Homo sapiens: one gene and its partners. The protein of the gene in region 1 interacts with the protein of each later gene in a pairwise test. Each region holds a gene or a part of one and is shown on either strand. Other genes may lie near its edges.

Region 1 (7,022 bases):
TTGAATGCTTCAGTGAAAATGTGGCATTTTAGGTTGCAAAGTATTATGCAGATTAAAATTAATATTAGTTACTCAAAACTCATAAATTAAGTATACATCCAATAAAAATTTAAAGTTAAGCAGACACCTTACTACATTACATTTTTTGTTTCATGACCATTTTTTTCCTAGCTTGCTTATATGATTAACCACCAGTGGGTGGTGTTTTTTGATATTGTACCTGAAACTGCAAAGTGGAAAGGTTATTTCAAGCTCTCAGATTATGTGATTTTAAGGGAAAGATTAAGGTGGAAATACACTGCTCTCAGCTTTCTTTCCCTTTGGATATTTTAGGCTGTAGGTTTTTCTTCTCTGACTTTCAGTCATTTAATCATTCATATGTGGCAGGTACTGTACTAGGCCCTGGGAATACACAGGTGAGCAAGACAGACAAGGTCTTTTTCTGCAAGGAGCTTGCTTTCTTATGTGGGGAGATAGGCAGCAAACAAGTATAAAATGGAAGATTACCAAAATGATTGAGGCAAGTGTTAAATTAATTGCAGGAAATAAACAGGATGAGGCATTAAAGAGTAAATGAGGGGTGGGTCTACTTTAGGAGGGTCAGCAGGGAAGACTTTTCAGAGGAAATGACTTCTGAGCAGAGAGCTGAAGTCGCTGAGCCAGCCAGGAGATTCTCTAGGAAGAGAAGTGCAGAGAGCCAGCCTGTTCAGTATAAAGTTCTTCCTCTTTCAAAGTGCCTGTCTCTGGGCTTTGGCCAGAGGCATGCTTCCCAGCCTGTGGGCTGGCCACTTGGCAGGCTGCAACCATTTAGGAGAAATAAAGTCCTGTCTCCGCCTCTCCTTTTCTAAAATTATATCTTGTAATTTTTTGCTGAGTTAACAGACATCATCTAATTGGCACATCCTCATTTTACAGGTGAGAACACTGAAGCCCAGAGAGTTGCAGGGAGTCTTGCAGCTCACAGTTGCCTCTCAGATTCCTATGCCTTCCACAGTGTCAACTCCCTCCTTTCCAAACCAAGGCACACACCTTGATTCTCACTGAGGGATTTGTACTAAGGTCATTTGGTGAGGTAAAATCCTAAGTAAAAAAAAAAAAAAAAAAAAATACCTGACGTAAAGGCTTAAAGGTGAGTTTGTAAAAATACAGTAAGATTTTAAAACAAAAGTCAAATTTTACAAAGTTAAAAAAAATCAAAGAAAGAAAAAAGCTGAAACAGATAAGTAAATAAAAGCCTGTAGAGGAAAAATCACCATGCATAAATGTTAATACAGGAAGAGCAGACTTTGTGGGATAAGGTGTTGTGTTGATCAGTGTAGAAGGTGACTTGTCTGAAGAAACATGGATTTGTATCCTAGGGCTAAAAATCTGCCAGCCAATGTTTGCTTACATTTCCTGGTGGCCGATGATAACTAATCTGGAAACATAATCAGAGGAAAAGTAATCATGAAGCCTGCCGTATATGCTATCTCTTCCCTGTGTTCACACATTCACACTTCTCCATAGTGACTCAAGGCAGCTTTGTATTTCCTGGTGTTATTAAACATTTTTTAAACTATGTAACTACTCTAACATTTTCTCCAAACTATATTTTTTGTGATAATGGCAGCTACAATTAATTCAATAAGTATTTATTGAACTATGGCAGTTTTTAGGCACTGTTTTAGTTACTAGTGGCAGAAAAGCGAGTGACAGAGACAACAGTCACTAGATGCTTTACACAGTTTTTAGTGAAGTCCTGCAATAAACCTGCAAGGGGGCTGTTAGTATCCCTGTTTTATAGATGAGAGAGGTGATGTTGAGGAAGGTTACATCAGTCATAAGTGGATTAATGAAAATTTGAACTCAGGTCATTCCATATACACTTTTCCTTAAAAATGTTTTTTCTCTATTCTGATAAAATGCTATATCCACAAATATACAAACACATGCACACTTTTAAAAAAAACATAAGTTTACAAAAATAAGAAAAGAGTAAACTCACTTCATCATCTCACACTTCTTTCGACGGTATCTTGTGGAAATTCCTGTATCTACCTTGGCTCTGTTTTTTTTTTTTTTTTAATGTCTGACTATAGTCTATGCTGTGGATGTGCCATAATTTTTATTTATTCAGGTCTTGTTTTACACATTCATTTAACAATCTTTATCACTCTATATGCCAAGACCTGTACTATTCACTTTGGGGTACAATAGTTAAGAAAATAGGTATTCTGGCTCTTGGGGAGCTTGCAGTCCAGTGAGGGAAGACACAAGATAACAGACCTATAAGATAAATTTTATACTATGTTAAATATTATAAGAATTATAGAAAAAAGAAAAAGAGCTAGGTATGGTTGACTTGGCAGAAAAGGTGTGTGGGTGTGTGTGTGGGATGCTATACATGTTAGATGGGTCAGTTAATCCTCACTAAACAGGAGAGATTTGGGCAATTATTTGAAGGGTGGTAGGAAATTAGCCAAACATATATCTACGGGAAGAGCATTCTAAGTGCAGAAGAGGCAGCTACAGTAAAGGACCTAAGACGGGAGTTTGCCTGTTGTGGTCCAAGCACAAGGAGGTCAGTGTGGCTGGAATGCAATGAGCAAGCAGTTGAGGAGGAGGTCAGAGGGCTAATGAAGGGATGAGTGTTAGGGGAAGATCCACTGCTTAGAGCCCTTTAGGCCACTGCAAAGCCTTTGACTTTTACTTTGCGTGAAATGAGAGGGCACTGCAGAGTTTTGAACAAAGGAGTGACATAAGTTTATCAAGCATGACTCTGGCTGTTCTGTTGAGAAAAGTTTGCCACAGGGCAAGTGTGTAAACTGGGAGAGTTAGGATTCTACTGCAGTAATCCATGTGAGAGGTGATAGCAGTTTAGACCAAGATAGTGGCTACTTTGGTAGTGTGGGGTAACAGAACATGCTGATAGGATTGGATGTGAAGTGTGAAAGAATGGGAAGGATTCAGGATGATTCCACGGATTTTAGCCTGAGGAATTGGAAGGATTGGATTGTCAGCCAACAACTGAGATGGGGAAGGTTGTGGGTGGAGGAGGTTTGAAGAGGGCAGATCACGGGTTCAGTTTAAGGCATGTTGTTTTTGAGATGTCTGTTAGACAGCAAGGGGATATGTCAAAGTGTCAGTGAGATACAATTGTATAATGCAGTTCCTCCTTCCCATTCTTTAAAATGTCACACATTTTATGTTTTATGTTATAAATCTTACAGTACGTTTTTACTCTTGTTTCTTTAGATCATCAGTGATCTTTTAGAGCAATTAAAATGAAGACAAATTGTCTTTGTTATGTACCTCTACTTTTTACCATTACATTTAGCTATTTATTTATTTATTTATTTATTTATTTATTTATTTATGAGATACAGTCTTGCTCTGTCGTCCAGGCTAAAGTGCAGAGGTGCGATCTCAGCTCACTGCAACCTTTGCCTCCCAGGTTCCAGCTATTCTCCTGCCTCAGCCTCCTGAGTAGCTGTGATTATAGGTGCCCACCACCACACCTGGCTAATTTTTGTATTTTTAATAGACAGGGTTTTACCATGTTGGTGAGGCTGATCTCGAACTCCTGACCTCAAGTGATTTGCCCACCTCGGCCTCCCAAAGTGCTGGGATTACAGGCATGAACCACCGTGCCTGGCCCATTTATTTATTTTGAACTAAGTTTCTGTCTGGTATCATATTCTGAATGCTGAAGAACTTCATTTAACATTTCTTATAACACTTGTCTTCTGGCAATGAATTTTCTCAGCCTTTATCTGCCCTTCTGCCCTGCTCTTGTTCTTCTCCCCACAGTGGACTTCGCTGTGTTATTTTTTGGTGCTGGGTGGGCTGATGGTGAGGGGTATGGGAGAAGGATCTCTGTTGTCTTGTTCCATTCGCCCTCTTATGTAGGGTTTCTCTGCCTGGGCACTGGGAGTTGGGCTTTCTCAATATGCCTGCTCCTCTTCCCTAGGAGAGCTAATCTTTTAACTTGTGTCAGTGGTTGGTCTTTTGTGGGTGAACATTTCTTGTCCCTTCCCCAGTGGTAGGAGTCCTTTGATGGTTGTGGTCTAAGTGCTTGAGCCTGTACTGTTTCTTTCCCTTCTCCCCGCAGTGGTGGATCTTTACTGGGGTCATCCTGGGGATGACATAGTTTATTGCTTTTCTTCAGTAGCTAAAGGCTTTCTTCTGATATGAGAAAAAGGTCAGGACAGGAGGTGTACACTGTCATGCCATTCTTGCAGCAGCTGCTGTTCCGCTCTTGCATGACAGCATCACTGAGGAAGTCTCTTTGTTCTCCCATCTGTTCCCAAACCTCTCTCACATGGGGAGGTCCTTGGAAAATAATGTGAACATGCCTGTGAGCATCTCTTGGGTCTGGGGCTTGCTGTAGTTCTATACCTTCATTCTGTCTCACATTCCTCCTTTAGCAAGTTGTTAAAATGTTAGTTGATTTTTTACTTGTTTGGATGGTGGATGGAGTAGGGCACTGGCCACAGGTAAGCTAGTGCTCTCCTTAAGAAAAGTTATGATTTTGCAGTTTATCATTCTCATTGTTAGGATAGTAGTGATACTCTTACTAACCTTCTTGGTGGAAACTGAACTTTTATATATTTTTTATTTCAATAGCTTTAGGGGTACAAGTGGTTTTTGGTTACATGGATGAATTGTATAGTGGTGAAGTTTGAGATTTTGGTGTACCACTCACTGAGTAATGTATATTAAATCCAATATGGAGTTTGGATAACCCTCCTAGCCTGTCTCTTCCGAGTGTCCAGTGTTCATTATACCACTCTGTATGCCTTTGTGTACCCACAGCTTAGCTCCCATTTGTAAGTGAGAATGTGTGGTATTTGGTTTTTCATTCCTGAGTTACTTCACTTAGAATAATGGCCTCCAGCTAGATCCAAGCCGCTGCCAGAGACATTATTTTGTTATTTTTTATGGCTGAATAGTATTACATTGTGTATATATACATTTTCTTTTATCCACTCATAGGCTGATGGGCACTTAGGTTGATTCCATCTCTTTATGATTGTGAATTGGGCTGTGATAAACATACATGTGCAGGTGTCTTTTTGATACAATGCAGTTGATACAAAGCATTTCCTCTGCTTGCACTCACTCCATCCTGCAGCCCTTGGAAGAAGGTGCGTGCTTCTCTTTTGCCTTCCACCATGATTCTGTTTCCTGAGGCCTCCCTAGCAATGTGGAACTGTGAGCCAATTAAACCTCTTTCCTTTATAAATTACCCAGACTTAGGGAAGTTCTTTATAGCAGTGTGAGAATAGATTAATACACTTCTCATCCCTTTAAAAAAATACTCTGGAGTTATGGTTTTATATGTGAGGTTTCCTGGATCTGTTCTCTAAATATCATATTTTTATCTGGTCATGGTTTTCACTTGAGATTTTGTTTTTGAATTTGATTCTAAATATCATATTTTTATCTGTTCGTAGTTTTCACTTGAGATTTTTTTTTGAATTTGATTCTTATCTCTTTCTTTCAATTCATTCTGTAAAGATATTTAATTGGGAAGTTAATGGTTTTTAACTCTTAAAAGTTTTTTTTTTTTTGAGTGCTGTATTTGAATCTCCTTAAATTTTCTTAGATAATTCAGGTATTCCCTTTAGTTGAGGTATTCTGTCTGCTGCAGAACACAGAGCGTGGGTCTAATTCTTCTGCCTTATCTTCCTTTTTCTAGCAGCTCTGCTCCTTTGTATGGGCTGTATCCCTTGGTTGACTCATTGGAGCTCAAGACTGTTATTGAATAGTCCTCTGTGGCGTCAGTCCTGCAGGTGGTAGAAGGCAAATGGGTCTCTCTTCAGTGGGCCTGCACTGGCAGATAGGCTGTCAGTTCCCTGTCAGTCAGCTTTCTGGTCTCCTTGTACTTTTGTGGGCATCAAGAGCAGGAAAGATTGTGGGCTGTGACCCCCTCCATCTCTGACTTTCAAATTCTTTTTGGGATTCCCTGGTTTTCAGTCCTTGTCCCTGGTTACTCTGCTGTCCTCTACTTTATTACTAAGTCTACTGGAGAGAACACCTCACACCAGATTTCTGCCAGAACCTAAGGCTTCACTTGCATCCATTTGCCCACAGATGCTAGTAGTAGTTGTTTTGCTCAAGAGAGGAAAGTAACAGGTTTGAGGGTGAAGGGGAAAGGTGTTGCATTCAGGTCACCATATACCCACAATTCTTTTTGTCGCATCTCTTCTGCATTTCCGTTTTGTATTATTTCATAAGTGATGCATTTCATAAAGAATAATTCCATTTTATTATAGGCACCACTACATTTCTTTCCCCTGACCTCTGCTATATCAACTGGAGTAAGAGAGACAACTGCAGTAATTAAACTTGAAGTTTTTGTTCTCCCTCTAACAGGAAGCTGGCAGATGGAACAAGATGTTTGTGGCCATTAGTTCAGTGGCTCAAAATGTCAGGGCAGAAGTCTTTGCAATTCTCTTGGACTCAAGGTGGCTGCTTCAGCCCCAGCTATCATGCTCATATTCCAGGTAGGGAGAAACAGGATTAGGTATACTTTCTAGTTGACTCAGCTTCATTTAAGAACTTGTGTGATAGTTCCATACAATGATTTCTACTCACAGGTTGTTTGCTCCCTTCTCTTCGAGATAAATATAGTATTTTACCTGGATACATTAGTACCCTTAACACGATCAGTGTTCTAGTACTAATGGGAATGGATATAGGGAGGCAACTAGTCTGCCTCAGACTTCCTACAGTGGGGAAGGAAGATTGGTTATTTTTCACATTGAACTTTTAAGAAACACATTTAATACACTATTGAAGGTCTAATTATATTGCAAAGGCACATCCATGCACAGTAGTTTAACATTGAAACATAATTATGTTCTAAGTGGGGACTCTAGTCTCCTTCTGTGAAAAACATCATTATTTCAAATATAAATGACTCAACTGCAGATTGATTCACTTTAATGTATTTATTTCATCTATATGTATATTTTTTATTTCTGAACTATTTCAAAGTAAATTACAGATGTTGTGACAATTCACCCCTCAATACTTTA
Region 2 (7,965 bases), on another chromosome or scaffold:
TCCGTCTCAAAAAAAAAAAATAAAAAAGAATAAGGAGGCAAGCCACAATAAAGAGGAGAGGAGACATGACCGCCAGTGGCATACAATACAAAGTGTCTTCAGAGGAAGTTGTAGCTTAGCTGAAATTTCAGAAAGTAGGTGGCCACGGGTTCCATGGCTGCCTGGATATGCAGAGGGAAAGTGATGACTGAAAACACCTTTAAAGAACATAAGGGTTTTACTGCCCACTATGCTGGGGAGGCCAGACTGGAAGACGTGAGAGTCTGAAAACAAGGGTGTAACCCAGAAAGAAAATTCTTTCACCTATACCCAACACAAAACTTCTCCTCCATGTATCTTGCATGGCAACTTTTTACGATTTTCCTTCAAATAGCAATTCTATAAGCCTATGGGCTTTTAAACTTTTTGTATAATGGACCCTAGGATGATCTATTTAAAACCCCAAAAGAGGCCGGGTGCAGTGGCTTACACCTGTAATCCCAACACTTTGGGAGGCCAAAGCGGGCAGATTACCTGAGGTCAGGAGTTCAAGACCAGCCTGGCCAACATGGTGAGAAACCCATCTCTACAAAAATACAAAAATTAGCCGGGCATGACCGTAAGTGCCTGTAATCCCAGCTACTCGGGAGGCTGAGGTGACAGAATCGCTCAAACCCGGGAGACGGAGGTTGCAGTGAGCAGAGATCGCGCCATTGCACTCCAGCCTGGGTGACAGTGAGACACCATCTCAAAAAATAAATAAATAAAATAAATAAAACCCGAAAGAATATATATCATTTATGCATGCTTATGAATTTGCTTCCACATTCAGGAGCCTTACAGGAATCCCTAGAAGCCCATCTTTGTGCCTCCAAATAAGAACCTAAGCTACTAAGCCCAGCGGGATGATGGAGTGAGGAGTGGGCATGGTTTACATTTTCTTTTCTTGTTCTCTTGCAGGGATTTAAACCCATGGGATTTAAACTATTCCTAATTTCAAACACAGGATATTTACTCTCAAACCCTTGCCCACCAGCACTGGCAGTCTGTACATGTCTTTGACCCTCCTAATTTCAGAATCTGGTTTTAAGAATCGCAGTTGGTGCTTTCCTTCTAGACCACACGCTTCCACTCAGCTTGGCTGGATGTGAGCACTTCCCTACTCCACTGGTCTCTGCCTTCAAATCTCAGAGTCCATGACTAGGCTGCTCTGTTTTAGGGCCCTGTCTTTCTCAGAAATAGTAAGAAAGTCATAATTGTATCTCATATCTTGCTGCTTATATTTATCAAGTTTCTACAGCAACTGATCACTTTCAGGAAAGCTATACTCCTCAAATGGGAGAATCTTGTTTCTGAAGTCCTCCAAGGAATGCAGTGTTACCTTGGCACTCTATTTTTTTGTGTGTGCAACAATGTCTTTTATTATGTATGCGGTTTTAAAATTATTTCTTGAATCTCTCCATACACAGGCAAAAAATAAGTGTGCTACTTAACATACTGGAACTTGCCTAACTTAATCATTGCCCAGAGAAGGGAAAATTATCACCAAAATGTGCTTAACCAGGAGGCCAATGCATCTGCCAACCTCCAAGAACATGGAGATGAACTTGACAGACAGACTGTCCACCATCTGAACCTTTATTCACCACCATTTGATAACCCTTATTCAGGCCCAAATCAGCAGCACATTTCTTGCCAACAATCATTAAGTGTCCAAGAAGACTTTCGTCATTATCTTCTGCTGCAGAAATCTGGGATATATGTTTTTTCGATATCAACAGAAAACGTGTTGGTGCTTGAGGGGAAGTGTCATGGAAAGCAAGGCACTGGTCATCCTCAAAAATGATTTTGGCTGGGATTTCCTTGCAGATGATCTTCCCGAAGACAGTGTTGCCACCAGGCCGAGCGACCTGAGCCTTGGCGATCTCACCTGCCATCTCTGCCTGTCTCCCACACAGCAGGCAGGGTAGAGGCTCAGAAGGAGGGAGGAACCCACAGATTCTATTTTCTTTGTTAAGAAAGTAATCCTTTCTGCTCATACCAATCCCATAGATGTCTATCCTTATTTTCTGCCTGCAGAAAAGGTGGGTATCATCACAGAATGTTTAGTCTCTCAATTCATCACACATTTGTAATTTTTTGGAGAGATTATAGGCCTTGAGGTTTGTAGGATTGTTGTTAGAGCAGGTGTTTTGTTTTTTTTTTTTTTTAGCTACATTGGTGTATAATTGACAACTAGAAATTATACATATTTAATTACTACTTGAGACCGTGATTACAGCAGTTACTACTGTTACCACTTGAAACCATCATTATGACCGAACAAAGGGACGAATGTAGAAATGAAAACTTAAGACAAAAGAAACTGTTTTAAGGAAAGGCAACATGAAGAAGAAGAGAGCTCCCTGCTTCTAGTGAGCAAAGGCAGCTCCCCTGCCGAGCTTCTCAGCCCTTCATATTTACTGGGTAACAAGAACAAGAAGGAGGTAACGATTGGTCAGCTGCTGAATTGATCACAGGTTCATATTGTTACTGACAAGCTTCAATTGTACCTAATCATAAGAAACATTTGTGCGGCCTCCAACAATGTACAACTTGATGTGTTGATATATGTGTACATTGTGAATGATCATCACAATCAAGCCGGTTAACATATCCATCACCTCACATAGTTGCTTTGGGGGTGCAGGGAGGTGAGAACATTCAAGATCTACCCTCTTAGCAAATTTCAAGTATGTGGTATTACTACCTATAGTTACCATGCACATTAGATCTCCAGGACTTTCTCATCTTGTATAAGTGAACCTTGTATCCTTTGACCAAATTTCCCCATTCTCCCACCCCCTACTCCAGCCCAGCCCCTGGCAACTACCCTCTACTTTCTGCTTCTATGAGTTTGACTATTTTAGATTCCACATACAAGTGCAATCATGCAGTATTTTTCTTTCTGTGTCTGCAATGTTTGACTTAGCGTAATGTCCTCCAAGTTCATCCATGTTGTCACAAGTGGCAGGATTTTCTTCTTTGTCAGGGTTGAATAGTATTCCATTATATATATTTATATACACATGACATTATTCATCTGTTAGTGGACACTTAGGTTGTTTCCATTTCTAGGCTATTGTGAATAATGCTGTAATGAACATGGGAGTGCAGATACCTCTTTGAGATACTGATTTCCTTTCCCTTGGATGTATGGGAGTTGCTGAGTCATATGGCAGTTCTGTTTTTACCTTTTGAGGAACTTTTATACTGTTTTTCATAATGACTATACCAGTTTACATTCCCACCAACAGTGCACAAGGGTTCCCTTTTCTCTGCATTCTCACTAACATTTATCTCATCTTTTTATTTAATTTTTTTTTGAGACATAATCTCACTCTGTAGACCAGGATGGATTGCAGTGGTGCCTTCCCAGCTCACTGCAGCCTCCACCTCCCGGGCTTCAGTGATCCTCCTGTCTCAGCCTCCCAAGTAGCTGGGACTACAGGCGTGCACCACCACACATGGCTGATTTTTATAATTTTTATAGAGACAGGGTCTCCCCATGTTGCCAGGTTGGTCTCGAACTGCTGGGCTTAAGCATTCCACCCGCCTTGGTCACCCACATTGCTGGGATTATAAGCATGAACCATAATATCCATAGCCATAATAATGGCTATCTCTTGCTTTTTTGATAATAGCCATCCTAACAGGTATGAGGCGATATTGCATTATGATTTTGGTTTCCTGATGATTAATGATGTTGAGGCCCTAGAAAAAGTACTTTTAATGATATTGGCTTCCCTCCTGCTTTGGGTGGTTCCATTTAGCCTAGGTCAAAATCACATTGTAGACCAGATGTTTGGTGTCCCTACCCTGCAGTCCCTGAACTTGGACTGTCCTGGGACAGACCCCACTTGGTAATGCATCCTAAACTTTACTTTGGCTCAGTTCATATCTTTTCTCCTACAGTGAAGAGTTCATAGGGAAGACATGTCATAGGAAAATTGGTTTTATAACGTGATGCCAGGAAGAAAAGTTTGTCCTTGGCCAAAAAAGTATTTATTGACCTGAAAAGGGAAGAATAGCAGAGAGCACTTCCCCATCATCTTTCATGTTTGTCGGGCTTGTCATGAGAAGCCCTCACCCCTTTCCCACCTCTCCCTTCCCTGTGCCTCTTTCTACTTTCGATTCTCCCCTGTTATCTCCCTTGTTATCTATCTGATGGAGCCAGTGTGGGCACTCCACAGTCCAAATGGAAGCTCAGTCCCTCCGGGTTGGCAGTGTGGCTGACACCTAACAGTCTGGGAAGTGGGAGAAATTCTAGAACCCAAGGCTATTACCGACCCTCGACTTCCCACTTCCCATAAGTGTTCCACACCCAGTGAGTGATAAGGATGGGATCAGGGGATGCCCCCAAGCTGTTATTAGCAGCCTCTGGCAGACAGAAGGGCAAAGAGCTAGAGAAGAACGCTGGACATGGGATGGGCTGGCAGAGCTGGCCAGACAGAACCCTGGGTGGACACAGAGTTGGGAACAAGCTGGCCAGGAGATGTGGCAGAGAGGCACCAGTTACTTTCCCAGGTGAGTTAATGTGCCAGTGTTTCCAGAACTTCGAGTCGCTTCATCTTTATCCAGCACCCACCCCTCACCTTCCGCATCCTGAAGAAGAGAGATGGGCAACTGGAGGGCTTCCATGCAGATCCGGCTCTACACATAGGTTTGAGAGCATACTCAGCAGTTTCTCATCCTGGTCCAGGCGATATTTATAGAGGGACCAGTGACATGGAGCTGGAAGCCTACTACTGGTGACTAAGAAGGGGGACAATGCCACTGGCTCAGCAGAGGGAATTCCCTGTGGGGCTGTCCCTCAGGTTCTCATCCCAACCCCCACCCCCACACTGCACTCACACCTGCTTCGACCCCAAGCAGATCAGATGTGGCAGTGGGGGGTCATGTGACGGAGAGGGGTCTATAAATAGCTGGAGGTGGGCATGCTGCCCCAGACGCCTTGGGGACAGCAAGAGCAGAGGCTTAAGGAGCTACACTGGGGGAAGGACAGGGGCAAGCAGGCCAAGGCCTGGCCGGGGCTCGGGGGGAGGGAATATGGAGCAATCCCGGTCACAGCAGCGTGGGGGTGAACAAAGCTGGTGGGGTAGTGACCCCCAGTACCAGTATATGCCCTTTGAACACTGCACCAGCTACGGACTGCCCTCTGAGAATGGGGGCCTCCAGCACAGGCTCCGGAAGGATGCAGGCCCCCGCCACAACGTCCACCCCACACAGGTAAAGTGCTCTAAGGGGAGAGGGGAGCCATGGATGAGGGGAGACAGTGGTGCCAGAGACTGGTGAAAATGAGGAATTGGGTGAAAAGAGGGAGCAGTGTTACATTTTTTTAACTTAAAAAACAAGTACGTGGTGATGTGTTCAAAATATGAAAATCTTTGAAAGTCTGGGCTCACTTAAGTATGCACTTAGAGAGATATGCATGCACTTTCATACAACCTTTACCAACAGAGTACCCAAATCATATGGGGAAACAGCAGAGCCTCACATGCATGAATAGCTCGTGCTTACATAACCTACGTGGAGTGGATTGCGTAGGAGCCCACACTGCAGTGTGCTGGGAGCTGTCTCCCACACCCTCACCCACAGGTAGACACTGCCAGATTTCTGCCTCTGGGACCCTCTGCAGAATACACACAAACATGAATCTTTCTGCAGAAGGCAGAAGAAAGGAATTGGGCAAGTGTAGAAAACAGACTGAATTGCTTATCAGTGATCAAAGATCTACCAACGTCAAAATGAGCAGAGATGTACAAGCTTTTAGGTCGCAAGATGATCAAGTAAGAACCTATTAAGTGTTAGGCACCTGGAAAAGGGCAGAGATGTGATCCCAGCAACAGAAGCATGCAGGCTAATTAGGAGTGTCTATGGATGAGCAGCCTCCCGCTGTGGGATTGGTGGGATATGAACACCTAGGAAAGGGGGAATGGGGATGGGCACAACTAAAGGAAAGGTTGTGAAATTGTCATGGAAAAAGATAGGTCATGGTTAATAAGTAAGTGTGCCTCTCCCTCCAAAGAATGCAGAGAATAACAGAGGATAGAATTTGTCTAGAGGGCAGTTGGCCAGAACTTTTTTTTTTTTTTTTTTTTTTGAGATGGAGTCTCGCTCTGTCTCCCAGGCTGGAGTGCAGTGGTGCTATCTTGGCTCACTGCGACCTCCGCCTCCCGGGTTCAAGCAATTCTCTTTCCTCAGCCTCCTGAGTAGCTGGGATTACAAGCACCTGCCACCATACCTGGCAAATTTTTGTACTTTCAGTAGAGACGGGGTTTTGCCATGTTGGCCAGGCTGTCTCGAACTCCTGACCTCAGGTAATTCACCCGCCTTGGCCTCCCAAAGTGCTGGAATTACAGGTGTTAACCACTGTGCCCAGTCTGGTCAGAACTTAAAAGGCTTTTTTTTCTTTCTTTTTTTTTTTTTTAACAGGGAGCCTTCAGTTCCTTTAGGTTTAAGGCTGGGAAGCTGAGGCATGAGCTATGCAGGGGATCTCAGCACTGGGGGTCAAAAGGATCTGCTCTCAGTCCCTGACCAACCCCCAGGAGTATTTGCAAAGGCAGCGCTAGGGACCCAGTAGGGAAGAGGGACATACAGGTCAGTGTAGGCTGGAATCGAGCATTGGGAAGGTTTCTTGGAGACAGCGGGGTCTGACTAGGCCTTTGAACACTGTGTGGGATCAGCAGGAGGGAAGACCCCTCCCCCTGGCCCTGTGTTCTCACTCGTGTACATGGTTGTATCTGGGTGGGATGGCAACTTGAGTAACAGTGCCATTATGGCACTTCCTGATGACAGTTCTCGTGTTGGGAAGCTATGGTTAGTTTGGGGAGTAGAATTGGCCTGTTTTCTACAGGTCTCAAAAGTAAACAAGAGTTTGGATTAGTTTTTCTTTGTTTAATTTTTATTATGGAAGACTTACACAAAAATGGAATGGTATAGTGAAGCCCCAAGTACCCACCAGTTGTCAATATTTTGTCACTATTGTTCCATCTATTCTTCCCTTCCCCACCCTCACCACTCTACACACCATGGAATACTTTTTTTTTGTTTTTTGTTTTTTGTTTTTTGTTTTTGAGATGGAGTTTCGCTCTTGTTGCCCAGGCTGGAATGCAATGGCGCGATCTCAGCTCACCGCAATCTCCGCCTCCCTGGTTCAAGCAATTCTCCTGCCTCCGCCTCCCAGGTAGCTGAGATTACAGGCATGCGCCACCATGCCTGGCTAATTTTTGTATTTTTAGTAGAGACGAGGTTTCTCCATGTTGGTCAGGCTGGTCTTGATCTCCTGACCTCAGGTAACCTGCCCATCTCAGGCTCCTAAAGTGCTGGGGTTACAGGGGTGAGCCACTGAGCCTTGCTTCCACCTTGGAATACTTTTTAACAAATCCCAGACATTGTATCACTTGTAGACTTGAGTTTTGACTTCTCCCTTGCCCTCCCCTCACCCTGCCCTGCATGGGACCAGCCAGAACAGATCTGGCCCTTTAAGTGTTTTCCCAGCCCAGGTATGATGATATGAAGCAACCCCCTTCCTTGTCTCCACTGGCCTGGGGCCTTGAGGAGCTGAGACAGCCTCAGCTGTCTGACTTCCACTGGGAAGTATGTTCTCTCTCTGGGTCCCACGCAGGGTTTGGAAGGAAACACTGCCTCCCTCGGTCACTGACCCAGAAGACAAACAGCCATGAGCAGGGCAATTCATGTGCGTGCTTGTTCAGGACTGCGGTGTAAAATGCTGCTCATATTGTGAAATCAGATCTCTTCTACTCAGGCTCTCCCAGAATCCAGCAACATGGCCTGGCCTGACCCTGGCCCCAGAGGACAGTTAGTGTAGTGGGAGTGGGGCAGGCTAAAAGTGGTTGGAGCTCTTGTATACCCCACACAGACACACGTGCTCTGCCTCAGGATGGAAGCGGAGGGCCACCAGACCTGGGGGAGCTGCTCTGTCCT
Region 3 (6,531 bases), on another chromosome or scaffold:
GAGCCTCCGGGCATCGGGAGTGGCAATGCAAAGGTCCTGAGGTAAAATACAAAAATTAGCCAGGCATGGTGGCATGCACCAGCACTCCCGGCTACTCTGGAGGCTGAGGCAGGGGAATCGCTTGAACCCAGGAGGCGGAGGTTGTAGTGAGCCAAGATCACACCACTGCACTCCAGCCTGGGTGACAGAGCGAGACCAAGGAAAGGCATGGTGTGGCACTGGGCCAGACGGACACTGCACACACTGACCCTGCGGCCCCTCATGTGTAAAATGGCCATCATAGTCATGACTGCCTTGTGTATAAAGCAGGTGCTCAGGCAGTGCCTCCCTTATCACCCATGGAGCTCCTCAAGGTTTTCTCTTTGCTTTCTAGAATCCAGAATCTGTCTCAGGGCTTGAGGGGCATGAGAGGCGTCCGGTCTGACCATATCCAGTGCCTCCGTCCTGCTCCTGCTTGCACAGGTGCTCACTCCCTCCGCCAGCACCTCTGCACACACGGCCTTTGAGGACATATTGCTGATGGATGGGCTGAGCCGGGCAGCAAAGCTCCGTGCATCCTGACCCTTGGTTCCTGGGGCAGAGCCGGGAGCCTTGGGCTGAACTGGCTTCTGCTGGAAGGGTCTGCTCTGTCGGGTACAGAGCTCATCACTGATGAGGAATCTACCAGAGTTAAAATCTCAGCTTGATGAGGGGAGCCTGTCAGAGGGAACGCAAAGCCAGCTCTATTTGCCCCTTTCCTCCTCTTCAGGAGGTGGCGTACCAGGGCCACACAGGATAGAAGCGTGCCTCAGGGCCTCCTCTGTCCAAGGCGCTGGTAGAGATGGGCTCTGGCCGCACGGGCCAGCACGGCAATGCCCAGGCCCGAGGGTGCTCTGGGTTCCTGTCACCTGAAGTAGCCACTTCTGGCCTTTGTGTGGACTCTGTCTCAGGACACCACAACAGGCAAAGCTCTGATGGGGTGCCCAGCATTCTCCTCTGGCCCAGCTCTCAAGAACCTTCTAATTGCTCTTTGCCCTCAAATGAGGCTGTGTGGCTGGCATTTCCTGCCTGGGGCTGGTGGGGGGGGGGTGGGTCCACCTGCCCACCCCCAGATCACCCCCGACATTGTCAAATATTTTAAACAGTTCCCCTCCCCTCTAAGCAGCAAAATTGCTGCACTGCAGGTAAATACTATTTACAGACAGGCTCATAGCCTCATATACGCTGTTTGTTGTCTCATGCCCCAAACACACAGAAAACAGAATTATTTATTGCATACAGCATGGGACTGTGATCAACCTGGACATCAAATGCCGCGATGGCTGACAGGGCCCAGGCGGCGGGAGTGCTGGGAAGCCCAGTACACGTGCTCCCTCTCTGTGGGACTCCGGGATCCACGGGGCGGATGGTTCTGTGAGTTGCGAGTTGTTCCTGTTTGTCTTCCAGCCCCCAGTCCTCCCCGGCCACTCTGATTAGCCAGCCTAGGGTAGGGCCTGGCATAAAGTCACACAGGCAAACCCCAGAAGAAGGAAAAAGGGCACCTGCATGAACAAAGAGCTGGGTGGCAGAGGCTGCACCGGGGTAAGACTTCCTTCATGCAGTTGGGAGTCCGCCCATGTGGGGACATCAGGAGATGCCACCCCACAGAATTGGTGGCTAGGCTGTCCTGGGTGTGGCCGAGAGAGGCCTGATCCCAGTGCTTCTTTCATTCTGGTCCTTTCTGAAATGGCTTGGGTTTTTAAAAAACCATGAGCATTTATTACTTTTGTAATAAAAGGAAAGAGATGCCCTTTTAAAAGAAAAGACGAGGGCGGAAACAAGGAAGTTGGCTTGCTGCTTGAGGAGTAAAGTCCCAGAGGCCACCTCCTTGACAGGAGGCGCTCTGGGGCATTCAGAATGGGAATGGCAGGTGGGCCTGGGTCTTCACAACCCAGCATCCGTAGGGCAGACGGCCATGCACAGATGGTACCAGGAATCACTGTGGCTGAGGACACAGGCTAGATCAGTGCCTGCCAGTGTCATGTTCCTGATTTAAGGGGCCAGCCTGGACACTGACCAGGGGAGAGCTGGGCTGTGATCCTTGACCCTCGGGCCCTCCACTCATATCAAATGGACCCTCTTGGGACTAGAGCCCCAGGAGGCAATGGCTGTGTGGGGTCCACCTTCACTATAGCCCTGGCCATCAGTCATCCCAAGTTAGAGCCCGGCTGCCCATGCAGTGCCGCTGTGGGAGGCACAGGAAGGCGGTGCTCAGTCTGAAGGTGGTTCAGGTCCGTACCTTAACTGAGCCCCCCCATGTACCCTCAACTGGCTCCTTTATGCAGTGAACACCCTGCACCACTGCAGCCCTATATCCAGGGCTGCGACTCAGTTCCTTCTCCCCTTCTCCCAGACTCTGGCAGACATACCTCAGATGGGGGCAGGAACCAAGAATGGCGGGGCTCCAGCCCCAGCTAGCCTGTCGGATAACTGCTGCATAAGTGACACCAGGAATCAGAGCCAGGCCAGGGCCACTGATGAGCCCTTGGATGCTCACTGTGTGATGCGTGCATTTGAAATATCTGACAGTAAGAGTGAGGCCTGGGAGAGATGCAGGGACTCTGAGGATGGGGGCCAAGCTGGGCTGAGAAACAAGTTAGTGGTGTCCTGCAGCAGCCCCTACAGCAAGTGCCAGCGTGGGAGGGAGGTGGGTAGGCATGGGGTGGGTGGTATGGCACTCACAGCACTGCCTGCAGACCACCACCTGACAGCTGGGCCGGTGGTGCCAGCTAATGGCTCCCTAGTTTTCTCGTAAGTCAGACGTGGCCAAAGCAAAACACTGAGCACACAGGTTGCCTTGAGGAGCAGTGACTGCCTCAAGAGCTCAGGGCTGAGGAGCTGGCTCCAGACAGCCTGTTGCCAATGTTCAGCAACATCACCCCACTCCTGGTTACTGATCGACCTGGTGTGCTCTTGAGAGTACCCCCACCAGGCCTCATGGGTCAATACTACTGTTATTGTTGCTATTGTTATTACCAGGCCCCGCCCTCCTAAAGCATTTGCATATTTTCATCCTTAATCACAGAACCAGAATCAGTATCTTCCAGAAGAGAAAACTGAGGCCCAGGAGAAAGCAAGAGGCTGTGCTGTGCTCCCAGGGCCTTCCTGGCTCGCTGTGGCTTTGAGCTCCAGGTCTCTCAGCTAGACAATGAGAACGTCGGCCCACGCGCGGCACAGTAAAAGCCCAAAATGCTATGATGGACGGGGTGGGCCGCTGGCTGCAGAGCCCTCCATACCACAGAGCATCTCTGGCTGGGAGAAAGGAGCAGGCTGAGGCCTGCAGCAGAGCGCGGGGTTGGGGACCGCTCCTGTTGGGCCCCAGCAAGGCGCCCTGAGACCCCTGCTCCATCCCTGCCGCTCCCCACCCGCCTGCTCCTAGCCTCTGTTCTAGCTCTGCCCGCGGCGGCCACAGCCTCCCCGAGCCGCCGGCCGGGCCCTCTGCTGCCCTCTGGCGGCCCGAGCGCGCGGTGCCGAGCTCCGCGCCTGAGGCCCTGAAACCCCGCGTCCGCCCGGCGGTCGCCTCCCGGGAACAAGAGCCCGGCTGGGGACCGGAGCGGAAGGGGGCTGGGGCTGGGGCTGTGCTCTGAGGACTGCAATATACGGTCCGCGCAAGCACTCAGCAAACGCTGCTGCGCTTACTGGGTTACTTACTAGATTCCTATTCTCTGGGGAAACTGAGAACCAAAGAAAATAAGTGTACGCGCGCGGGAGGTGCAGGAATGGGGGTCCTTGCCCGAAGTCGCAGAGGGACAGGGGCACCGCCGGGACCAGAACCCCGACGCCCCTGCGGCCGCCGAGCCCGCGGCAGTGGAAAAGCGGAGTCCGAGCGCCTCCAGCCTCAGCCCGACCCTGGACTGCTCCCCCCAGCCCCCGCGCCCAGAGAGCAGGAGCCCGGCAGCGGGTGACGAGGTCGCCGGGACTGGGAGCCGGTGCGGGGGAGGCGGGCCCCGCGGGGCGTGACGCACCGAGCTGGGAGGGCCGGGGCGGGGCAGCCGAGCAGGCTGCATATAAGGGCGGCGGCCGGGCGCCAAAGCCAGAGCAAGCGGCCTGTGCCCAGATCCTGGGAGAACCCCAGCCGAGCCCAGCCTAGCCCGAGCCCAGCCCGAGCGGAGCCGGAGCCCCAAGCCCGAGCCGCGCCCAGCCCGAGCAGAGCCCTCCAGCCGCTCACCCCGCGTGCCACCCCAGCGACCCTCAGCCGCTCTCTGCCCTTCTCTCGGCCCCGCGCCCGCCCTCGCGGCCCCTCTGCCCAATGAAACTGGCCGCGATGATCAAGAAGATGTGCCCGAGCGACTCGGAGCTGAGTATCCCGGCCAAGAACTGCTATCGCATGGTCATCCTCGGCTCGTCCAAGGTGGGCAAGACGGCCATCGTGTCGCGCTTCCTCACCGGCCGCTTCGAGGACGCCTACACGCCTACCATCGAGGACTTCCACCGCAAGTTCTACTCCATCCGCGGCGAGGTCTACCAGCTCGACATCCTCGACACGTCCGGCAACCACCCGTTCCCCGCCATGCGGCGCCTCTCCATCCTCACAGGTGAGCCGGGGGCCGGGCAGGTGCGGGAGGGAAGGGCGGGGAACCCTCGGCCAGGGCGCCCCGCGAGCGCCGGTCCGGCTGCCGCGCGCCGAGTAGTGCGCTTCGCGCTTAGAGAGGCTAGCGCGCCCCGCGCGGCCTCAAAGTCAGCCCGACTTGTCCCCTGGGCGGCCACCCTCACCTTCTCCTTTTCTGCTCTCTGTGCCCCCTCTAGGAGACGTTTTCATCCTGGTGTTCAGTCTGGACAACCGCGACTCCTTCGAGGAGGTGCAGCGGCTCAGGCAGCAGATCCTCGACACCAAGTCTTGCCTCAAGAACAAAACCAAGGAGAACGTGGACGTGCCCCTGGTCATCTGCGGCAACAAGGGTGACCGCGACTTCTACCGCGAGGTGGACCAGCGCGAGATCGAGCAGCTGGTGGGCGACGACCCCCAGCGCTGCGCCTACTTCGAGATCTCGGCCAAGAAGAACAGCAGCCTGGACCAGATGTTCCGCGCGCTCTTCGCCATGGCCAAGCTGCCCAGCGAGATGAGCCCAGACCTGCACCGCAAGGTCTCGGTGCAGTACTGCGACGTGCTGCACAAGAAGGCGCTGCGGAACAAGAAGCTGCTGCGGGCCGGCAGCGGCGGCGGCGGCGGCGACCCGGGCGACGCCTTTGGCATCGTGGCACCCTTCGCGCGCCGGCCCAGCGTACACAGCGACCTCATGTACATCCGCGAGAAGGCCAGCGCCGGCAGCCAGGCCAAGGACAAGGAGCGCTGCGTCATCAGCTAGGAGCCCCGCCGCGCTGGCGACACAACCTAAGGAGGACCTTTTTGTTAAGTCAAATCCAACGGCCCGGTGCGCCCCAGGCCGGGAGCGCGCGCGGACTGGCGTCTCCCCTCCCGGCGATCCGCCCCCAGCACTGGGGAGGCGCCACTGAACCGAGAAGGGACGGTCATCTGCTCCGGAAGGAAAGAGAACGGGCCAAGACTGGGACTATTCCCCACCCCCGGTCCCCCATTGAGGCCCGCCACCCCCATAACTTTGGGAGCGAGGGCCCAGCCGAGGGTGGATTTATCTTCTCAAAGACCTAAGAGTGAGCGCGGGGTGGGGGAGGGATGTGAAGTTATCCAGCCTCTGCTAGGCTTCAAGAAACCGTCATGCCCGCTTGAGGGTCAGGACCCACGGGGCATTATCTTGTCTGTGATTCCGGGTTGCTGTGACAGCCGGTAGAGCCTCTGCCCTCCCAAAACTAAGCGGGGGGGCGTGGGTCAAATCATAGCCAAGTGACTTGTTTACATGTGAGTGAAACTGCACAAAGGAACACAAAACAAAACTTGCACTTTAACGGTAGTTCCGGTGTCAACATGGACACGAACAAAACCTTACCCAGGTGTTTATACTGTGTGTGTCTGAGGTCTTTAAAGTTATTGCTTTATTTGGTTTTTTAATATACAATAAAATAATTTAAAATGGAAAACCGGTTTTTTTTTTTTTTTTTTTGCTTTTAGAGATGGCTGGAGTGGGGAAGGGTGGGGAGAAGGAAAGGGCTGGGCTTTGACTTAGGTGGAACTAGAACTTACCTTCCCCAGAACTGGAAAATAACCCTGGCCTTCTGAAGGCAGCTTCAGCTGCCAGAAAAGCCCCAGATGCCTGGGGCATCTATGTAGGGGATGGTTCCCTAGAAAACCGGGAAGAATATAAAGGATTTCAGGGTCCCCCCTGGAGATGAACTCTTTCTAGCCATCCACCCGCTTAATTTTCTTTGGGTTAGATGACAAAAGGCCTCATTTTCTGAGAGAATGTTCTGAATTCTTCAGCGTAAAAGCCACTGGAACTGTGCCTAACCATTTTGTCACCAGACTCAGTGTGGGCCCAGGCAAACTTTCGGACTGTTGGAGGCATCAGTCAGGCCCTGGGGAAAGAGCCTGAGACCCCATCTGGAAACAGGACCATCCTGGCGCGCCCCCACCACCCGCTCACTCCAGGGTGCCACCCT
Region 4 (7,527 bases), on another chromosome or scaffold:
GGAGGACAGGCTGTGGGAGGGTGTGAACCGGATACTGCTTGAAGGGGTGCTGGGGACTTTGAGAGAGGGCGGCTGGCCCTGTCTGGTCGGGGATGCTGGCCCAGACACAGGCCATGGCTGGGATGGGGTTCAGAAACAGGACCGCTGTCTCTCCCGGGCCAGGGCCCTCCCCAGCTGCTCCTGGCTTTCTGGTTCTTGGGGTCAGGGGCAGGCCTGTGCCATGACCCCGCCACTGAGGCTGTGAGGAGGCTGTCGGTGCCCAAGGGCACCAAGGCACACCCCTACTCTTGCACCCCATGTGTGGGCCCGAGCACCTGCTCTGCTGCCCCAAAGATCTGGCGATGTTTCCCAGGCAACTGTCTCTCACAGCCTGTCTGCCTGGCACTCCCGTATCCCATAAATGCCACCACATCTGGCTATGGGTGGGCGTGCCTGCCTGGCATCCACGGGCCAGCAGGTGTGGTGGAGCACAGCCCAGTTCCTGGCTGCGTCAGAAGGCTGCCCGGGCCTTTTGGCTGTCCTTGCCAGCAGGTGAGCACTGCCAGGGCACCGTGTGTGGGTGCTGGGCCATTTAGCCACATGGGAAGGGGTGGAGGCAGCCCAGTGCCTTCAGCATGTGCCCAGGGTGCCTGTCGGCCACAGGTCTCATTTGGAAATTGGGAGGGTGCACGGCCACCGGGCTGCTTAGGCCTGCCAGCCTCAGGGCCCGTCACCGCTGTCTTAGCCTGATTTGCAGGGTGTCAGCGCTGGGCAGAGATGAACATTTGGGTGACTCTGAGGATGCCAGTGGCTGGGACACTTGTTCTTCCGCGGTGGAAGGAGTTGGAGAGGCCTGGCTCCCTGACCTACGGCCAGCCTGGCTTCTGAAACCAGCTCAGTGGGCTGGGGCCTGATTCATCATCCATAAATGTGTCCTTTTTTGCCACAGAGGGTAAGGGGCCTCCTAGCCCACCGGTCTGCAGGTGCGGGAGTAGGAGATGGGTGGCTCTGATGCCCCCACCCACTCGATCACCTTCTGCTCTGCCTGGGATGCAAACTCCCACAGCTGAAACGTTCTTTTGTAAACATGAATTTTGGCTTAGAAAAAACTCATTTCCACTGTGCACGTGTCAGTCCCAACCAGAAATTATTTTCCAATAAAGCAAAACTCCGTCACCACAGCAGCAGATGGCTCCGAAGAAGTGGAGCGTTTTCATCAGGTTCAACTTTGAAACCTCCACCATCACCATCACCAGCACCGCTGTGTCATGCTGATAACTTGAGGACAGGCAGGACAAGGTATGTTTGTTGGAGGTGAACATGCTTCCTTGTCTTGAGAGTCTTGAGTGGCCGGTCCCCTTCCAGGCCCTCGGCTGGCAGGCAGCTGTCGGGAAGCTGTCAGGCGGGAGGGGATTGGGGGTCAGGCTTCCTGACAAGTGGAGGCACCCGCCACGTGCCCAGAGCAGAGGTCACCCCAGTGCCTTTCTCTGTGGACTTATCTCTGGCTGTAGGTCACAGGGGCCTGCCCCACTGCCCCCTCCCCAGTGGTGACATGGGAGGAGGGGAGATTAATCCAGAGCAGCAGATAAACTGGAGGGGAAGAGCCCCCAGGAGGACAACTGTGACACGTTGTGCTGCCTCTGCGTCCCCAAAGCACCAGGCCCAGAGGCCCTGCCTTCTGCCCCATGGCACTGGCCTGGGGCCCTGGCTCCTCTTCCCTGGTGGCCAAGGGTAAATGAGGCCCACTGGGGTGGCTAAGACTCAAGGGGATGGGGGCCCCCCAGCTTCAGTGATGCGGGCTGGAGCCAGGCTCAGCCAGCCCTGAGGTCCCCTGCAGGCCCGTGCCTCCTACCCTTGGGGCACCCGCAGCGAGAGCTTCCCAAGCAGCCTGCGCCAGCCGGGCAGCGCAGGTGTCCCGGGTCTGGGTCACTTGAGACCCCGCCCTGCTTCTGCTCGGCTCTGCCCCTCTTGGGCCCAGTGGCCAGGGCACCTGCATGGGGGAGCCGGGAGGGGCTGGAAGGATGCTGAAGACCCCAGCAAAGCTCTAGTGTTTGGCTTTCCAGGGGTGGGGGCTGGGTCCTCCCGCCCAGAAAGGCCCCTGTTCTGGGGCAGCAGCCACACACAGGTGTCCCTCACATGGTCCTCCAGGACAGGGCAGGGGCCTGAGTTTCCCAGGCTCTGCCCAAGGGACCCAGGCAGGGAAGGAGATGGGTCCCAGGGGGCTCGGAGCCCATCCAGAGGCCGGCCGGTCCCATGGCAGGAGGGCACTGGACCATGTGGGGGCCATAGAGGAGGAGGAGGCAGGAGCCACCCCCGGGTCCAACAGCAGAACCCTGGGGTTGGGAGCCAGAGTGGGGAAGGGAGAGGAAGGAGCAAGAACACCCCCCACCACCCCCAGCACGGCACAGAGAGCTGAGCAAACACTTGTCACCAAGGGCTTTTCTCCTCTGTCTTTTTTTGTTTTTCGAGACAGAGTCTTGCTGTGATGCCCAAGCTGTTGTGCAGTGGTGCGATCTTGGCTCACCACAACCTATGCCTCCTAGGCTCAGGTGGTTTTCGTGCCTCAGCCACCCAAGTAGTTGGGATTAAAGGTGTGCACCACCATGCCCGGCTAATTTTTGTATTTTTAGTAGAGATGGGGTTTCTGCATGTTGGCCAGGCTGGTCTCAAACTCCTGGCCTCAAGTGATCCTCCCGACTTGGCCTCCCAAAGTGCTGGGATTGCAGGCTTGAGCCACCACACCTGGCCTATTTTTTTTTTTTTTTGAGTTGGGGTCTGGAGTGCAGTGGCACGATCTTGCCTCACTGCAGCCCCCACCTACCTGGGCTCAGGTGATCCTCCCACCTTAGCCACCCAAGTAGGTGGGACCACAGGCACATGCCACCATGCCCAGCTAATTTTTTATTTATAGAGACAAGGTCTTGCCATGTTGCCCAGGCTGGTCTCAAACTCCTGGGCTCAAGCAATCTGCCTGCCTGGACCTCCCCAAGTCCTAGAATTGCAGGCATGGGCTGCTGGGCCTGGCCTTTTCTCCTGTCTTGGGAGGCTGGGACCAGTCTTCCTGGAAGTACCCAAGGCCCTCCTGCAGACCATGGTGACATTTCCAGGAAAGACCCAGAAGCTCGGAGCTGAAGCCAGGGCAGCCAGGACTGTCGGGGAGCCCTGGACACTGGCTGTCTGAGAGCGCTTGGTCAGCTGGCACCTGCCATGTGGTGGACGTGGGGCTGCAGAGACCCCACGGCTGGGCTTCTCTCGCCTGAGAGCAGGCCCAGCCACAGGCTACCTCCCACAGGGCCCCCTGAGACCACACGGCCTGCAGCAGCTCCCCCAGGCCCCCTCCCCCTGCCCGGGCAGCACTCAGCGCTGCATCTCCATCTGCTCACTCAAGTCGAAGGGCCTGGGGGTTGGTGCCTCCATCTTGTTCTGCTGGGGGCCTCCAGCATCTAGAGCAGGAAGGTGTGCGGAAGAAAACCACTCATGCAGGGAGAGGGGGACCTCCCAGTCCAGGCCCTGCTGCTGACCCTTTCCCTGAACACCAACCTATGGCCTCCAGGCTGGGGCCCCTTGAAGGACGGTGGGCCACTCGGGTGGCCTGGGTTCAGGGCCGGGCTCCACAGCTGAGTTCTGGAGGGAGGGCACAGACGACTGGGGGCTGGGAGGGGCCAGGTGAGGGGTAGGAACAGCCAGGGAGCCCTGCAGGAGGGGTGCCCAGCATAGCCCCAAAGCTGCTGGGGCTGGGCAGGGCAGAAACTGCCAAGGAGTCCCAGAGCCCTGAGTGGCGTCTGGCGAGGGCCCCTGACCCTGATCTCTGTAGACCCCACTCCTTCCGTGAGGGTGGCAGCCACTCCAGGGCCCAGCAGGGCCAAGGGAGAGGCAAGTGGCCTGGGCCCATGGGGCACTGGGCACAGCCAAGTGTGGCACCAGGGTGCCTGGGCGGCTGCTGCCACCACGTGGCCGACTTTGAGGTCGCAGAGCCCGGGGTCCAGGCAGGAAAGCCCCTCAGCTGCCCCCAGGGCCCTGGCCCAGGCCCCTGAGGCCCAAGTGAGCCACCTGGACTTTGTCACTTCGCCTCTGGTTTCTTGGTTAAGGAGCTTGAGTTCCCCGCCTTTTGTAAAGAAACGGTGGTGGCGACGGCGGATTTCAAGCTTTATTTACTCCTGGAATGGTCCTGGGAGGAGAGGCGGCTCCGCAGAGCCGGAAACGGGGGCGGGAGCTGTTGGGTGCAGCCGGGAGGAGGCAGTGCCGGGGCGGGCCGGGCAGCCATCGGGGTAACGGAGGGGGCTCCGGCCCGGGGGCTGCCCGGACGGGAAAGGGGACACGGGCGGGGCTCCCCCACCTGGGCCCCCCACCCTCACGCCAGGCCCCCCTGTGCGGTGCAGGACGAAGGAACCCTGGCCTCAGTTTCCCTACAGGCTGGGATCAGGGCCCCTGGGGTTCCGACTGTCTCGGAGGGGGGCGGCCTCGCTGCAGAGGTCTGGAGGCGGGGCCGGGGCGGGGGCGGGGCCTGGAGGGGCGGGGGCGGGGCTTGCGCTCACTTCCGCCCGGCGCGGGCTTGGATGGAGGCGGCGCGGAGGCCGCGGCTGGGGTTGAGCCGCCGGAGGCCGCGCCCGGCGGGCGGGTGAGGCCGGGAGCCGGGCGGGGGCGCGGCCGGTTTTCCCGCTCCCACGTGCTTCCCGGCGCCCCCGCGGGCCTCCCGCTCTATTCTCCCCCTGGGGAGGGCTCCCTGCCCCCGGGCCCGGCCCCCACGCCCGTCGCCCCACCCCGCGCCGCCATTCAGCGCCCGCCTTGAGCCCCCACCCCACGCCGAGCTTCCCCCGCGCCGCCCCAGGCCCTCCCGCGCCTCTCCCATCATCGCGTCTCCCCTGAGCACCCCCCATCTAACCCTCTACCTTCCCCAGGCCCTCCGCAATCTCCCCAACCATCGCCTCATCCCGCTGAGGACCCCATATTTCCACCCACCCACCCCGCTCCCCCACCCCCAGTACCCCTCATCTCCGCACTGTCTGCCCCAGCAGCCCTTCCCCCAACCCTGCCGGCCACCTCCCGCACCATCGAATTTCCCTCTAGTACCCCCCATCTCCCCGCTCTCTCTGCCCCAGGCCCTCCCGGGTCTCCCCACCATAGCGTTTCCGCTACTGAGTACCCCCTGTCTGCCCTCTCTGTCTGCCCCAGGCCTTCTGGCGGCCGCCCCTGGTTTCTCCTGGGGGGTGATGAGCGGGAGCGGCTCTGGGCCGAGCTACTGCGCACGGTGAGCCCGGAGCTGATCCTGGATCACGAGGTGCCTTCACTGCCCGCCTTCCCAGGACAGGTGTGCCCACTGGGCCCATCTTAGCGATGAAGGGGTTTCCAGGGCGGGAGCCATCGCTGGGCAAGGCCCAACAACTCTGTGTTGCAGGAGCCCAGGTGCGGCCCGGAGCCCACTGAAGTCTTCACTGTCGGACCCAAGACCTTTTCCTGGACACCCTTTCCGCCGGACCTGTGGGGCCCGGGCCGTTCCTACCGGCTGCTTCACGGGGCAGGAGGGCACCTGGAATCCCCCGCCAGGTCCCTGCCCCAGCGCCCGGCACCTGATCCCTGCAGGGCCCCCAGGGTGGAGCAGCAGCCGTCTGTGGAGGGTGCCGCGGCCCTGCGCAGCTGCCCCATGTGCCAGAAGGAGTTCGCCCCCAGGTGAGTAGGCCACCCCTGCGCCCGGCCCGGTTATCCATCCGTGTTTGGAAACCACAGCCGTTCAGAAGGTCAAGAGGTGGCCGAGCTCAGCGCTGGCTTTTAAAGCCCTGTTTCACACTGGAAAGGTGGCCCAGTGCTGTGGCCTGGCATGTCCAGGTGGCTCTCTGTCACGGGTCTGGGGTCCACCTGCTTGCCGTGCTCTGTGGGCAGGGCAGGCTGGGGGCCCACAGAACAGCACAGAAGGAAGGCTGGGAGCACTGGCCCCGGGTCCACCTGGCCATCCTGGAATCTGGTGGCACCAGCGTCCCCAGGCCCAGAGCACAGGAACACCTTCCCGAGAGTGCGTCATGGGTTTTAAAAATGAAGATCGTCTTTTTTGTCTGGAGATGCTTTTTCTTATTTTTGAAACCCAACGTATATTTTTATGTATTTTTTAAGTAAAGGGGAATGGAACCCAGTTTTGCTAACAAGATAACCCAAACTGCCCAGTGCCTGGCCTTGTGTCTGGCGACCTCTGGGCCCTTGGCCTCCGGAGCAGGTCCTGGGGCTGGGGTGGTGTGAATGATGCTGGTTCGTAACTTTTGGTTGAGTTAATGGGCGGCAGGTTTCAGAGCTTATGGAGACCAGGTCCTTCAGTCATGCCTGATGCCCCTGGTCTTCCAGAAGCAAAAACAGCTCGGGAATGCGAAGGCACCGGAGTCCAAAGTTGGCAGCCAACAACAACAACAACAAAAGAAAAGGCCGGGCACGGTGGCTCACGCCTGTAATCCCAGCCCTTTGAGAGGCTGAGGCAGGTGGGTTGCTGGAGCCCAGGAGTTTGAGACCAGCCTGGGCAACATGGCAAGATCCCATCTTTACATGCCTGGGCGTGGTGGCGCGTGCCTGTGGTCCTAGCTACTCTGGAGGCTGAAGTGGGAGGATTCCCTTGAGCCAGGAATTGGAGGCTGTAGTGAAGTATGATTGCACCACTGCACTCCAGCCTGGGTGACAGAGTAAGACCCTGAATCACGGACAGAGGGTACTGTTGGGAGCCCTGGGGAGAAATCCATGCTCTTGGCTGAAGCTCTGAGATCCTTGTTGCTGTCAGGGTGCTGCCCCCCGCCCCCCGGGGAGGGGCTTTTGTCTTTGCATCGCCTGCTTTTCCAGATAGTCTAAAAAAAGACTTCTGAAGACAAGGACGTTCACGAGGAAAAACTTGCCATTTTGAGCTTTTTAAGCAGTTGCTGAAAGCTTGGCAGACTGCCTCAATTTTTCCTAAGTAGGCGTCAATGAAGTCAGGTCCAGGCCTTGGTGTGTCTGGAATGCTTCAAGCACATTCGAACACTTGATCGTAAGGGAGAGCCGGTACTTTGGAACCGGAACTCACCCGAGGCTGTGGCCACCGCATGGGCAGGCTAGCTGGGGGACAAGCCCCATATCTTTGGGAACAAGGGTTTGCACAGCCACCCTGGGATGCCCTGGGACTCCTGACCGCACAGGACCCCAGCAGGGAGGCCGCCTGGATTGGAGGGTCTGGTCTAACAGCCGGACTTGGTCTTGAACCGTCGCCCTGTCCCGCACAGGCGCCTGCTGAGCCTGGAGCCCTGGCAGAGGCGGGTCTGGGGAGTGGAGCTGCCAGGAGGCCTCCCATTTCTCACAGCCTTGGTGTTCTCCGGGTCACCCAGAGGACCGTCAAATGCTGGATTTGACAAACTATGTAGAATGTTCTTTGTGTCTTTAAGATCTTCTTGTGGTCCTATTTGGACATTTTGTGCATTTTCAGACACCTGCGGGTCACGTGGGTGGATGGGAAGCTGGGCACCTGGTGAGGGGTGAGGATGTTGAGAGCCAGAGCTGCGTTTTGTCTCTGTTGATGTGGCGAGGCCCTGGGTTGGTCACTGG

Evidence for each region.
Region 2: the proteins of PRDM5 (region 1) and CLCN1 interact in binary tests that used the Homo sapiens proteins (3 or more experiments, as listed by UniProt).
Region 3: the proteins of PRDM5 (region 1) and RASD1 interact in binary tests that used the Homo sapiens proteins (3 or more experiments, as listed by UniProt).
Region 4: the proteins of PRDM5 (region 1) and FAAP20 interact in binary tests that used the Homo sapiens proteins (3 or more experiments, as listed by UniProt).

What each region holds. Positions count from the first base shown.
Region 1 is NC_000004.12:120,912,721-120,919,742, reverse strand, and holds part of PRDM5 (PR domain zinc finger protein 5), read left to right. Parts: intron 1-3,652; exon of another isoform or gene 3,653-6,473; coding exon of another isoform or gene 6,474-6,488; intron 6,489-7,022. UniProt on the Homo sapiens protein: Sequence-specific DNA-binding transcription factor. Represses transcription at least in part by recruitment of the histone methyltransferase EHMT2/G9A and histone deacetylases such as HDAC1.
Region 2 is NC_000007.14:143,311,146-143,319,110, forward strand, and holds the start of CLCN1 (chloride channel protein 1), read left to right. Parts: upstream 1-4,965; 5' UTR 4,966-5,067; coding exon 5,068-5,247; intron 5,248-7,965. UniProt on the Homo sapiens protein: Voltage-gated chloride channel involved in skeletal muscle excitability.
Region 3 is NC_000017.11:17,493,918-17,500,448, reverse strand, and holds RASD1 (dexamethasone-induced Ras-related protein 1 isoform 1 proprotein), read left to right. Parts: upstream 1-4,053; 5' UTR 4,054-4,267; coding exon 4,268-4,553; intron 4,554-4,764; coding exon 4,765-5,324; 3' UTR 5,325-6,012; downstream 6,013-6,531. UniProt on the Homo sapiens protein: Small GTPase. Negatively regulates the transcription regulation activity of the APBB1/FE65-APP complex via its interaction with APBB1/FE65.
Region 4 is NC_000001.11:2,191,758-2,199,284, reverse strand, and holds the start of FAAP20 (Fanconi anemia core complex-associated protein 20), read left to right. Parts: upstream 1-4,512; 5' UTR 4,513-4,535; coding exon 4,536-4,597; intron 4,598-5,151; coding exon 5,152-5,287; intron 5,288-5,374; coding exon 5,375-5,646; intron 5,647-6,309; coding exon of another isoform or gene 6,310-6,427; exon of another isoform or gene 6,428-7,527. UniProt on the Homo sapiens protein: Component of the Fanconi anemia (FA) complex required to recruit the FA complex to DNA interstrand cross-links (ICLs) and promote ICLs repair.